Homo sapiens: one gene and its partners. The protein of the gene in region 1 purifies or fractionates together with the protein of each later gene. This does not show direct contact. Each region holds a gene or a part of one and is shown on either strand. Other genes may lie near its edges.

Region 1 (3,500 bases):
AGTATATAGTTTGATGAATGTTAGTAAATTTATAGTTGTGAAACCATCATCATAATCCATTTCCACCATCCCCAAGTTTGTTGTACCCACTTGCAGTCAATCACTATTCCTATCCCCAGGCAACCACGTGACTTGCTTTCTTTCTATGCTCCATTTTATAAATGGAATTTTGCAACGTCTAATCTTTTGTACTTGGCTTCTTTCAATTAGCATGATGTTTTTGAGATTCATTGACATTATTCATGTATCAGTAGTTTGTTCCTTTTTATTCCAGAGTAGTAGTCTATTATATGGACACACCACATCTTCTTTATCTATTCACCAGCTGATGGGCACTTGGACTGTTACAAGTTTTTGGCTATTATGAAAAATGCTGCCATGTTGGCATGCTAAGCCTACAAGTAGAATGACTGATTGTACAGCAAATTTATGTTTACACTTCTTAAGAAAATATCAACTATTTTCTATCAGTAATGTTAGGAGGGTTGCTCCACATTCTCATCAATCCCTGTATTTTTTGTCTTTTAAATTTTATTCATTCTAGCAGTTATGAAGTAGTATCTCGTTATGGTTTTAATTTGCATTTCCCTAATGGCTGATAAGGCTGAGTGTTACTTCATGTTCTTATTTGTATTTGCATATTTTCTTTGGTGAAATGTCTGTTCAAATATTTTGCCCATGTTTGTCCTTTTATTATTGAGTTATATGAATTCTTTATATATTTTGATACAAGTCCTTTATTTGATATGTGCTTTTCTCCCAAGCTGTAGCTTCCCTCTTCATTTTTAATGTTTCTTTTAAAGAGCAAAGTTTATTTTTTATTTTAATGAAATTCAATTTATCAACATTTTTGCTATGTGCTTTTAGAAATCTTTGCTAACTCAACATCACAAAGATTTTTTCCTATGTTTTCTTCTAGAAGTTTATAGTTTTTGTTCTTACATTTAAGATCACGACCACTTCAAATAATATGAGGTAATGGTCAAATTCATTATTTTGCATATGGATATCCAATTGTTCCATTTGTTTAAAAGACTGTCTTCTTATCCACTACCTTATTTTAATATCTTTGTTAAGAATTGACTGTGTGTGTGAGGGCCTACATCTAGACTCAATTCTGTTCCACTAATCTCCTATGTTTATCCTTATGATGGCACCACACTGCATGGATCACTGTAGTAAGTTTTACAATAAGTTTTAAAATCAGATGATATAAGTCTTCCAACTTTATTCTTCTAAAATTGTTTTGGCTATTCCAGGACCTTTACATTTCCATATAAATTTTAGAATCAGCTTGCCTATTTCTACAAAAAGGCTGCTGGGATAAAGATATCTGTAACCATGAGTACTCACAAAGCATTTTTGGATCATGCTGTGGGTCTAATAGGGTCATCAGTTTAAGTACAAAACTATAGTGAATTCTACCATCCACTACTGCAACTTAAAGCAATTTCTAAACCTCTGTTTTCTCATCTATAAAATAAACAAGTTAGTTTACTCTTCATCAATCTATCCATTCATTCACACACCATGTACACTGTTTTAATTCTAGCAGTGACAGTATAATGATCATTAGTCTACAAGAGTACAGAAGTACTCTTTAAAGTCTGGATAAACTGAATGTCAGAGTTAACAGAAAATGTGATTTATCCAGTAACATAACAGAACATAACTAGAGTAGCACTAAATTCATGATTATTACCTTATTCAGCAAAGCAACTTGGAACCCAGTGTATTCCTTCATATTAAGGTCTAGCAGTCTGTGAGGGACATCCTCTGAAATTCCCTGGAGGAGTTGTTGAAAATCTTTCCTATATGCCATTGATAAACCATGTGATCGGCTCCGGACTTTTATTCCAGTCTCCTGTACTACTTTTTTGCCTACAGATCCAATGACTCGATCAGATTCTATTTTGGCCTAAAGTAAAAATAAGTCAGAATTATCTTGATAAAATCTAAATTAATAAATCAGATACTAATGGTTATGATCTTCTATAAATTAAATATATATTTTTTAAGTATATAAGAAGTTAAAAACTCAAGTAGCATAGTTTATGTCAAGTATTGGGTAAATTAAACATAGTTTAAACAACAATGTCTTATGATTTTAAATCATTACAACTCTAAACTTTTGGAGCAGGACAAACACAATTTCAATTTATTATTTTATTTATTAATACCCACTATACCTAAACCATGAAATATAAATGCACACTAAACAAAAATGTGTATTCCCAATTCAGGGGTGACGGTAAATTATTTTTTTAAAATCATCATTATGTAAGACATTTTTACTAGCACATCAATATGGCAAATAATTATGCAGTTCTTCCCTGGAAAGCAAGAAGCAATGTTTTGACTCCTCCCAAACTGCCTTTTGATTTGTAGTTAAGGTAGCAATGTCAGAAGTACTGGAGAAATAATGTATTTCATAGGACATTAATAATTTCACAGTCAGTTAAACTATATACTGCTTGACTACTATAGTATTTATTAATGTGACTTATGGCCAGAATGACAAAATTCAGTGTTTTCTACAAACATTTCAAAGAAACTCCCATTCTGAAAGAAAAATCTGCAGGTTTCAAAACATAAAGAGTTTTTTTTTTCTTTTTTAAGGAAAAATGACTTTCTAATCTAAATTTCTCAAAAGATAAATAATGTTCACATATAGCAAGTCTAGGACCACACTCATGAAGCCATTTTCATAAATTAGGAATTATTATATAATTTTCAAATTAATGTTTCAAAACATAGCACACCATGGATGTGAGACAGAATTATGTAATATATGGCTCTAAAATGTAATATATTAATATAATGGAATTCCATTAGAACCATCAAGAACTAGCTTTTAACCTGTTTAACCATCCTAGCCAAAACCATTCAAAATACTTAATGGCTCACTCTATTTCTTGATATTACCTGTTGACTCAGTTTTTTGAGGTATGAAATGACACTGTAACTAAGTCCATATTCCATACTGTCTGCTATTAGGTTAGGTGCTCCCATCATCCTAACAGCTTTCTTCAAGGGCTATAGGAAAAAAGAAAACATCATTCAATATTAAGCTTATTAAAAACTTATGGTTCCATGTATAGTCTGTCTTAAAATTTTCTCCAAAAAATTATTTCCCCTTCTTTTCCTCAATAAGGAAGTAACACAATCGTATTTATGTTTCAGTAAAATGTTTGTCAGTGGGATGAAAGGCCGTTTGAAGTAGTTAAAAAGGATTAGAGGCCATAATAACTCCCCAAGACAAGAAGGATAAGATACTGGTCTTCCTTGGTACCACTGGGAGAAACTAGGTTTGGAATAAATGGACAGAAGACACATTCTAGAGGTAGCTCTGATAAAACATGGGTAGTAAGTGAAAAACACTCAAGGAAAATGCAAGATTTCTACTTTTGAGTAATTAGCTGCTCAACCACTCACTAGTTATATGATTCTAGATCAGATTATAAATAAGCTCTCTGGCTCTCTGTGGCTTAGTTTCTCAT
Region 2 (3,500 bases), on another chromosome or scaffold:
TATGTTGAAAACAACTTCTTTTCACCTAAGATAAAATATTTTTTCTACCGGGAGAATGTAGAATATAGGCACACTCCACAGAACATCTACCTGGTTATTGTTTCCTAATAAAATATCTCTTGGTGTTTAACACCCAAACATCACAGAAGATGTAACTGTCTCAGTAAAGTTTAGTCTTCTACAGCCAATTTGTTTTATTTTTTGTGTTTACAAAAGTTTACTCTTAAATGGCTCCAGGACAATGCTTCATTCTAGCTATAGGTGGCAAAAGATATTATGGCAGGGAATACAGATGTTTAAATACAAATGGAATCAAAGGTCACCATCACCTCAGGCACAATGAAAAGCTGACTTTTTGCCAGATTTCTCTTTTTTTCTTTCTTTAAAAAAAAAAGAGATAGACAGGGTCTGGCTATGTTGCATAGGCTGGTCTCAAACTCCTGAGCTCAAGTCATCCACCGGCCTCAGCCTCCCAAAGTGTTGGGATTACGGGCAGGTGCGAGCCACCTCGCCAAGACTTTTTGTCAAATTTCTTAATTCTACCTGTGGCCAGGGGCCCTTTCCCCACAGCCTTCTATTTTAAAGCTTTTTCTGCTCCTCTTTTTGTTTCTGCTTGAAAGCTGTATCTTCCTCGTCCATCTCCTTGGCCTGCTTCTTGGGCTGTTTCAGGGGCTTCTTGCTACCTTTGCAACCAAACATGGCAACTGCCGCCCCGGCCCCTTCTCCAAACCCTGCCACCAGAAACAGAGCTCCTATCCTCACCATCAACTCCTTATGGAAAAATATATACTTATATCCCAAAAACTCAATATATATTTTTTAATTATTTATTTTTAGAGACAAGGTCTCACTATGTTACCCAGGCAACACTCAAACTCCTGAGCTCAAGTGATCCTTCTGCCTCAGCCTCCCAGGTAGCTGGGACTATATAGGCACACACCACAGCACCTGGCTTTCAATACTTTTTTTTGTAAGATTCTGGACAACATGCTGAATCAACATCTTTTTTTTTTTGAGACAGAGTCTCACTCTGCCACCCAGGCTGGAGTGCAGTGACATCATCTCAGCTAACTGCAAACTCTGCCTCCCAATTTCAGGTGATTCTCCTGCCTCAGCCTCCCAAGTAGCTGGGATTACAGGTGTGCGCCACCACACCCATCTAATTTTTGTATTTTTTAGTAAAGACGGAGCTTCACTATGTTGGCCAGGCTGGTCTCCAACTCCTGACCTCAAGTGATCTGACTGCCTCAGCATCCCAAAGTGCTGGGATTATAGGCAAATCAGTATCTCTTTCACAAAACAACGTTCAAGAAAGGTTATTCAGTTATACTCTGAATACAACTGGCAGAATGTTGGAAGCATGTGTTCTTTGAAAAGAGAGAATGTTGACCAAAAGGACATGCACCTTGGAGCTGATGGGGCTCAGAGAGGCATCCATCATCATCTTATTGTATATAAAACAGGTGTCAGGGGATGAGAGAAGAGAGAGAAGAGTTATAAGCCTTTAACATCCTAACCTTACAGGATGTTACTTTATCACTTATAAGTTACTTTTCTTACCTATACAAGGCTTCTCGTAATTTTATTACATTTAGTTACACTTAGAATTGGATGGGAATTTGGAATGAAATACAACCAATTTTAACTTTGTCCATTTAAAATAATGAGAAAACCAAGCAATCAAATTAACATTACTAGTAATGAAACAAACATGCCTCCTGATATGATGCACTGAGACTATGTCACTTCTGCCAAAAGTAATCATCTGAATCTAATTATGAGAAATATCAGACAAACCTAAACGGAAAGGCATCCTAAAAAGTAACTGGCCCGTATTCTTCAAAAATGTCAAGGTAAAAAAAAGAACAGACACACTGAGGAACTGTTCCAGATTAAAGGAAACAAAAGAACATGCCATGACAAGTAAATGCAATATGTGATCCTAGGTTGGATCCAGGATCAGAAAAATTTGTATTTTGCTATAAACACCAGTGGGACAACTGGCAAAATGTGGGTAAGGTCTATAGATTAAATAAGATCACCATAATTGTGATTATGTAAAAGAATGTTCTTATGTCTGCAGTTATTCTTTTTTTTTTTTGGAAACAGGGTCTCACTCTATCACCAAGACTGGAGTGCAGCGGTGCGACCTTCGCTCACTGTAACCTCAACCTCCCAGGGTCAAATGATCTGCAAGTTACTCTCACATGTTTCAGAAAAAAATATATATATACAAAAAGAGAAAAAGACAAAGAAATGTAGTACAGGGTAACATTTTCGGAATCTGGTTAAAATGATTAAATGAATTCTTTGTGTAACTTTTAGATCTGAAATACTTAAAATGTTAAATATATAAATAAAATAACTACTCTCATGTAGCATATTTATATAGAAGAGCTATTTATCAAGAAGAATAAGCAGGAAATCTAAAGTGCCTTTTCAGGCTAATTCAGTTTGGTCCAAAGTTACCTGATTACAATCCAGCATGCTTCTTGCCACAAATCCGGGGTGATTTCATCATCATCCTCATCATATTGCATATCTGTAAAAACAAAAATATTGTACTCATTTGCAATGAGATGCCACTTAGTTAACATCTTGCTCCTATGACTTTAAGTAGCAGAAACATATTTACTTTCTGCTGAATAAGTAATGCTTTCACCCCACTTTTCTAAAATTTCAATTACATTAATAAAATAATTTATGTCTATGTCACACAGGTATTCTTCCAATATAAAAAGAGGTTTATTAGAAAGGTTCAATGTAAGTTGTATGAATGTTAAGTTTTCCATTTTATTGATCAGCAAGATTTTCAGACACTAGAGTCAGAGAACAGGGTAAGGGGGCAGAGCCATGGAAGGATTCCAACAACTGGGCAATACCCTAAGGTGGGGCAATCTATTATAGCAACATTTCATACATGTACAGGTATGAAAGTTTGCATTTTCCAAAGATGGCCACAAGCCTATCTCCCATCCGACATGGTCTTCTATAATGTGATCTTGACACTCCTATCATCACATATAGTGGTCTATGCACCCTCTCCTTGAATCGGGTAGATTTTGACTCTCCTGTAACTTAAGAGAATGCAGCTGAAGCAATGCTGCATGACTTCAGAAGCCAGGTCAGAAAAGGCAATGAAGTTTCTGTCATGTTTGCTAAAACACTTCCTTCTGGAGCCCTGAGCTGTCATTAAAAAGTAGGGGTGGCTCAGGCCTGTAATCCTAGCACTTTGGGAGGCCAAGGTCGGTGGATCACCTGAGGTCAGGAGTTCGAGACCAGCCAGGCCAATATGGCAAAACCCTGTCTCTACTAAAAAAGACAAAAATTAGCCAGGCAGGGTGGCACATGCCTGTAATCCCAGCTACTCAGGAGGCTGAGGCAAGAGAATTGCTTGAACCCAGGAGACAGAGGTTGCAGGGCCCGCCTCTCACTCACCGCCCGAAAGTCGGGGCCGCCCCACGGGGCGGCGGGGGGGAGTGCCATCCCCGCCTCGCCAC
Region 3 (3,500 bases), on another chromosome or scaffold:
TTCCTGTGTAGAGGTCACACTTCCTTGTTCTTTCCATGTCTTATAATCTGTGGTTGAAAAATTGGACATTATAGATAACATATTGCAGTAGCTCTGGAATTCATGTCCTTGGGGACTGATCTTGTCTTTTTGGTGGTTTATTATTTTTGTTTAGTGACTTAGCTGAACTAACTGTAAAGTCTACTTCCCCCATAGTGTGCAGCCCCTGTGGCCCTGCTCGGATGTTTTTACTTTTTTTTTTTTTTTTTGAGTTTCACTTTTGTTGCCCAGGCTGGACTGCAATGGCGTGATCGCCGCCGCCTCCCAGGTTCAAGCGATTCTCCTGCCTCAGCCTCCTGAGTAGCTGGGATTACAGGCATGCGCCACCACACCCAACTAATTTTGTATTTTTAATAGAGACTGGGTTTCTCCATGTTGGTCAGGCTGGTCTTGAACTCCCGACCTCAGGTGATCCGCCCACCTCGGCTTCCCAAAGTGCTGGGATTACAGGCATGAGCCACCGTGCCTGACCGTTTTTACTTCTTTTAATCTTTCACAGCCTGGCTACTGAGGGGCTGTCTCTGGGTAGGCATAAGCCACTTACTGATCAAAGATTGTACTTAAGCCCCCTTGGCCAGTTAGATCTTAAAGCTCACCCTAATGGCCACCGGAAATGTTATGTGACTTGCAGATTGCTATCAAAGCTGAAGGAGTTTATATTTTGGCTTCCCATTCAGCCAGGGACTAATAGTTGGATCTTCATACTGCACTCAGTCCAGAGAGGGTATAACCTTGGGCATGCACATATTCTGCCAGACTGTCAGGGATGAGTGTGATTTTATTTTAAAGCCTGACTACCTAGGAGGTGCTCCTGGATCAGAGTAACTGAATGTCGTTCAGTCAATGATGAGAGGTTGTGTTTAAGCCTCACATACTAGTGATGGTTACACCATTTGTTGATCAATCTACTTATCCATTTCCTGGGGCTGCCGTAACAAATTACCGAACTGTATAGCTTATACAACGGGGATTTATCCTCTCACAGTTCTGGAGGCTACAAGTCTGAAAGCAAGATGCTGGGAGGACCACGCTCTCTCTGAAGGCTCTAGGAAAAATCCTTCCTAGCCTCTCCCTAGCTTCTGATGGCTCTGGCAATCCTTAGCTGGTAGATGCATCACTTGAATCTCTGGCTTCACACAGCATTCTCCCCTGTGTGTGTTTCTTTTCCTCTTACTAAAATCCCATTCGAATTGGATTTAGGCCCACCCTAATCCAGTACAATCTCATCTTTAATAATTATATCTGTAAAGATCCTATTTCCAAATAACATCACATTTTGAGGTTCTGGGTGGACATGAATTTTTTTGGGGGGACATTATTCAACTCAGTACAATCTATGTGTGGCTTGAAAATATTATATGAATACCCCACATCCTACTCTTGACTGCTCCTGAGTGGGTATGGCTAGTGCATGTGCACAGCCTTCTTGTCCCCCAGGGCTGACTGTGATCCCAGAAGGGCTCTTCTTGGCTTTTTCCCTGGTGCTATTTGTTGAACAACATGTTGCTCTGCTCTTTTGTATGTTGCTCCTAGTATCATGGGAGCTATTACAGCCCTCTTAATTGGTCTCCACCATGACATCTACTGCTTTCCACAAAGCACTCAGATTTGGAATTCTCCATCACCTAAGTAAGATAAGTCCTCTGAGGCAGAGCTGAGGAACTTCTGTGACCTGCCTTTCCTCCTGAGCAGAACTTCTGTGCCAGTGCAGGCTCAGTGATACCACCTGGTTTATAAGCAGGTGCTGGGGTAACAGCATTGGGAAACCCAGCATTCTCATCTGCCATGCATGCCTGGAGCAGAGCTTCTGCCCCAGGAGCTGGGGCAGGGAAGGGGGCCTCAGCCTGCTTGACTGTGTCTACCAGGAGTAGAGCTTTTGTAACTCCAGACTAGGAGAGGTGAGATATGCTGGCATCTGATCTCTGGGAGTGAACCCACAGCCCCAGCCCTGGGAGCTGATGAAGAGGGGGAATCCCTTAGCCTCCTGACTATACCAACCCAGCGTAGAGCGCCTGTAGTCGTTTCTGTGAGAGGGATCTGGGAGGAGTTGGAGGGGGCAAGTCATAGCTCAAATGCCACAGACTACGGCTATTATTACTGAGATTTAGTAGGTTTTCTTGAATTAACTGTTTCTCCACCTGCTGTATGCCCTTAGGACAATTTCCAAAAGCTTTGAAAAATTATTTTTTAAAAATAATGTTCTCCAGCTAATGGTTATTTTTGCTGGAGAGGGGCTTTGCTATACTCCTCATCCAATTTCAGAAACAGAAATCTTCTATTTTTAACATTTAAAATTTTCCTTCTGAAAGTATATACAATTAAAATTTACAGTTACTCACAAGGAATATTTTAAAGTGTCATCTAATTCCATGATAGCAGCCTGGTTCCCACAACGATAACAGTAATTGGGTGCACTGAAAATGGTAACCACATTCCGATCATGACACCAATTGTATCCCTGCAGGATAAAAACAAATTCATTATTTCATTATAATATTATGATTTTGACACAGACACATTTAAAAAAAACTAAACTCAAAAACTACAGGTACTCTCTGTGGAAATGTAGTCGTCTATATTACTATATAAGGTCTCCATCTTTAATAGTTTGTGTACCTGTAAAGAATACTGTGCAATTCGTGGGCCTAGGAGTCTGTTAAATGCAGCTCGCTAATTGTTGTTTTGCCGTATCTATGCTTGAAATCTTGGCAAGGATGTGTACTGAATTTCTCCCACAATCATAATTAATTTCTCAATTTTCCCTCATGAATTATGCCAATTTTTTCTTTATATATTTTGAAGCTATTACTAGGTAAATACAAATTTAGAATACTTTCTTCCTAGAGAACTGGGCCAGTTTTCATCAATAATCTCTTTATTTCTAATAATACCTTTTATTAGAGCCTATCTCATTCATATTATTAGCTATAGTATTATATATAGTGTGTATACATACATGCTAATTAATGTATGTGTATATACATATGTATATATACGTGTATATATGTATATATGTGTGTGCATATATGTATACATGTGTATATACATGTGTATATACATACACGTATATATGTATGTATACATGTATGTGTGCGCATATATGTATACGTGTGTATATGTGTATATATACGTGTGCATATATGTATACACACATACATGTGTGTATATATGTATACATATATATACATACATTAGTGTATGTATGTGTGTATATACACACACACACACATCCTGTGTTGCCCAGGCTGGAGTGCAGTGGTGCGATCTAGACTCACTGCAACCTCCAACTCCTGGGTTCAAGCAATTCTCCTGCCTCAGCCCCGAGTAGTTGGGACTACAGGTGCGTGCCACCACACCAGGTTAATTTTTTGTATTTTAGTAGAGACAGGATCTCACCATGTTGCCCAGGCTGGTCTCGAACTCCTGAGCTCCAGCAATCCGCTTGCCTCAGCCTCCCAAAG
Region 4 (3,500 bases), on another chromosome or scaffold:
TGAGTTTTCCTCCTCAATGTTGAGCAAATCTTCTTCCCTCCCTGCCTGAAAATGCAGTACCCCCCACCCTGAGACCCTGACCCATGCCAAGGGCAGCCAAGCCTGCCAGAAAGACCAGCCCAGCATGGCCGAGGGCCCATGTCCCCACCCCTGCTGCAGCTACCTTCCCACCACGCTCCACGGTCTCGTGGACTTTCTTCAGGAAGTCTCGCTCCCGGCAGCGCTTGGAGTCACGGATGGTCGTGGCGTACGTGGACTCTGTGATGAGCAGGTTGGGGCGGCACTTGTCAATCCAGGCAGCTCTGGAACACGGGGGTGGGGGTGTGAGCCACGATGCACTGTCCCCACGGTTGCAGGGCTGGGTGTGACAAGCTGGACCCCAGTACCACGCCCAGCCGCCTTCCTAGGTCACTCTGGCTGGAAAGAGCCAGCTGGTAAAATGCTGTGGGCAGCACACTTGGGAAGAGAGAGGAGAGACAGAGGCACCCACCCAGACACTTCGGAAGAGCGAGACAGAGGCACCCACCCAGAGACTTGGGAAGAGAGAGAAGGAGGGACAGAGGCCCCTGCCTGGACCCTGTGCCTTCGCGCATTTGGGCCCAGAACGAAGGGGGCTCTCCAGGCCGCACAGGACATGGGAGACACTGCCAGGCTGGCCACTCAAGGGCTGGCACCCTGACACCTGCAAGGGTCCTGAGCTCCAGGGGGGCCCACGGGACAAAAAGACACCTCAGCCTACTTACCCTAAGTGTCGGTCTGGGGTCATGTTATAATCACCCTGGTGAACGATCAAGGATGCCATGAGGAGGGTGCCTCCCACCCCAGCAGCCCCTCCCAAGCCTCAAGCCCTTCCACTGACCGTGTAGACCACAGACTCTGAGCCCACTTTAATCTGGAACATGGCTGCCCCCAGCACGTGGCCTGCATAGTAGGCCTTGATCTCCAGCTCATCATCTACCTGTGGAGGACAGGGCTGCGCTCAGGCTGTGTCCTCACAGCAGAGGGGCGGGGAGTGAGGGAGGCGGGGGACGGGAAGCGCGGGAGGCGGGGGTGGGGAGCGTGGGGGAAGGGGAGCGAGGGGGCGGGGGCGGGAGCGAGGGAGGTGGGGGCGGGGAGGGAGGGAGGGAGGCGGGCAGCGAGGGAGGCAGGGGCAGGGAGTGAGGGGGGCGGGGGCAGGGAGGGAGGCGGGGCGGGGAGCGAGGGCACTGCACTGAGCTTTTCAGTCCCTGTTGCTCACACACAGCATCCAGTTCACAAGGGACGGGCAACGTGGACAAAGAACGAAAGACAACGGACAAAAAACTGAAGGGACCTGAAATTGGAGTTTCCAGCGTGGACTTTGAATACATGACAGAGAAAAGACAAGGTTCAGAATGTTGGCGGCCAGGCCTAAGGTGGATCCCTTGGGGTCAGGAATTGGAGACCAGCCTGGCCAACATGGTGAAACCCCGTCTCTACTAAAAATACAAAAGTAAGCCAGGTGTGGAAGTGCGTGCCTGTAATCCCAACTGCTCAGGAGGCTGAGGCAGGAGAATCGCTTGAACCTGGGAAGTGGAGGTTGCAGTGTACTGAGATCACGCCACTGCACTCTAGCCTGGGCAATGGGGCGGGACTCCATCTCGGTAAAAACAAACAAAAAAATACTGGGCTGGGCACAGTGGCTCACACCTTTAATCCCAGCACTTGGGGAGACCAAGGTGGGCAGATCATCTGAAGTCAGGAGTTCAAGACCATCCTGGCCGACACGGTGAAACCCTGTCTCTACTAAAAATACAAAAGTTAGCTGGGCATGGTGGTGGGTGCTTGTAATCCCAGCTACTCAGTAGGCTAAGGCAGAATTACTTGAACCCGGGAGGCGGAGATTGCAGTGAGCTGAGATTGTGCCATTGCACTCCAGCCTGGGCAACAAGAGCGAGAGTGTCAAAAACAAAAATTGGCAAAAAACTAGACTTCTTTTAAATTTAATTTATTCATTTAAAACTTGCCGGGTGCGGTGGCTCATGCCTGTAATCCCAGCACTTTGGGAGGCTGAGGCGGGTGGATCACCTGAGGTTGGGAATTCAAGACCAGCCTGACCAACACGGAAAAAGCCCGTCTCTACTAAAAATACAAAATTAGCCGGATGTGGTGGTGTGCGCCTGTAATCCCAGCTACTCGGGAGGCTGAGGCAGGAGAACTGCTTGAACCCGGGAGGCGGAGGTTGCAGTAAGCCGAGATCGCGCCACTGCACTCCAGCCTGGGCGACAGAGCGAGACTGTGTCTCAAAAAAAAATAAATAAATAAAATTGAGAGACAGGGTGGGGCTGTCACCCAGGCTGCAGTGGCGCAATCATGGCTCACTCAAACTCCTGGGCTCAAGCGTCCTCCCGCCTCCACCTCCGCCTCCCAAATAGCTGGGACTATAGGCACGCACCCACCACGCCAGGCTAATTTAAAAACAAAATTTTGGCCAGGCGCAGTGGCTCACTCTTGTAATCCCAGCACTCTGGGAGACCAAGGCGGGTGGATCACCTGAGATCAGGAGTTCAAGACCAGCCTGACCAACATGGTGAAACCCCCGTCTCTACTAAAAAAAAATACAAAATTAACTGGGTGTGGTGGCACACGCCTGTAATCCCAGCTACTCGGGAGGCTGAGGCAGGAGAATCGCTTGAACCCAGAAGGCGGAGGTTCAAGGTGAGCTGAGATCGCACCACTGCACTACAGCCTGGGCAATGAGAGCGAAACTCCATCTCAAAAAAAAAAGAAAAAAAAAAAGAATTCAACAGATGAATTTAACACCATATGACACATAACCAGAAGAGAATCCATGAACTGAAAGACACCAGAGGGAATATCCATCAGGAAACAGGAAAGACAAACAGATGACGGAGTTTCAAGAGGTTGAACGTCAGGCTCTCGGGGTCCCTGGAGGAGCAGGAACGGGGCAGAAACAACACTGGAAGAAACATGATGAAGGCCTCAAGCCACAGATCCAAGAGGCCTCAAACTCTAAACAGGCTGAGGATACATGTCAGCCCATCAGAGCACAAGCACCAAAAACCAAGGCTCCTGCTCAGACCCTACGGCTGCCCATGCCCAGAGACAGAACGTTGTTTGCAAAGTGCAGAGACAAAATACTGTCAACCTAAAATCTTACACACCTAAGGGAAAAAAAGTCCTTTAAGAACGAGGATAAAGTAAATCCATTTGCAGGCAAATAAATTTTTTTTTTTTGAGCCGGAGTCTCGCGTCTCGCTCTGTCTCCCAGGCTGGAGTGCAGTGGTGGGATCTTGGCTCACTGCAAGCTCCGCCTCCCAGGTTCACGCCATTCTCCTGCCTTTCAGCCTCCCGAGTAGCTGGGACTGCAGGCGCCCGCACCACGCCCAGCTAATTTTTTTGTATTTTGTTTAGTAGAGACAGGGTTTCACCGTGTTAGCCAGGATGGTCTCGATCTCCTGACCTCGTGATCCGCCTGTCTCGGCCTCCCAAAGTGCTGGGATTACAGGCGTGAGCCACCG

What was found. Proteins that work in one complex are often made in the same cells at the same time.
Region 2: the proteins of INTS6 (region 1) and POLR2B purify together in Homo sapiens (affinity purification with mass spectrometry; 3 studies listed by BioGRID and IntAct, with this or other methods). This does not show direct contact.
Region 3: the proteins of INTS6 (region 1) and PPP2CB purify together in Homo sapiens (affinity purification with mass spectrometry; 3 studies listed by BioGRID and IntAct, with this or other methods). This does not show direct contact.
Region 4: the proteins of INTS6 (region 1) and INTS11 purify together in Homo sapiens (affinity purification with mass spectrometry; 3 studies listed by BioGRID, with this or other methods). This does not show direct contact.

What each region holds. Positions count from the first base shown.
Region 1 is NC_000013.11:51,376,537-51,380,036, forward strand, and holds part of INTS6 (integrator complex subunit 6), read right to left. Parts: intron 3,037-3,500; coding exon 2,926-3,036; intron 1,919-2,925; coding exon 1,703-1,918; intron 1-1,702. UniProt on the Homo sapiens protein: Component of the integrator complex, a multiprotein complex that terminates RNA polymerase II (Pol II) transcription in the promoter-proximal region of genes.
Region 2 is NC_000004.12:56,985,396-56,988,895, reverse strand, and holds part of POLR2B (DNA-directed RNA polymerase II subunit RPB2), read right to left. Parts: exon of another isoform or gene 3,439-3,500; intron 2,543-3,438; coding exon 2,470-2,542; intron 1-2,469. UniProt on the Homo sapiens protein: Catalytic core component of RNA polymerase II (Pol II), a DNA-dependent RNA polymerase which synthesizes mRNA precursors and many functional non-coding RNAs using the four ribonucleoside triphosphates as substrates.
Region 3 is NC_000008.11:30,788,819-30,792,318, forward strand, and holds part of PPP2CB (serine/threonine-protein phosphatase 2A catalytic subunit beta isoform), read right to left. Parts: intron 2,498-3,500; coding exon 2,379-2,497; intron 1-2,378.
Region 4 is NC_000001.11:1,314,661-1,318,160, forward strand, and holds part of INTS11 (integrator complex subunit 11), read right to left. Parts: intron 959-3,500; coding exon 860-958; intron 779-859; coding exon 744-778; intron 303-743; coding exon 164-302; intron 1-163.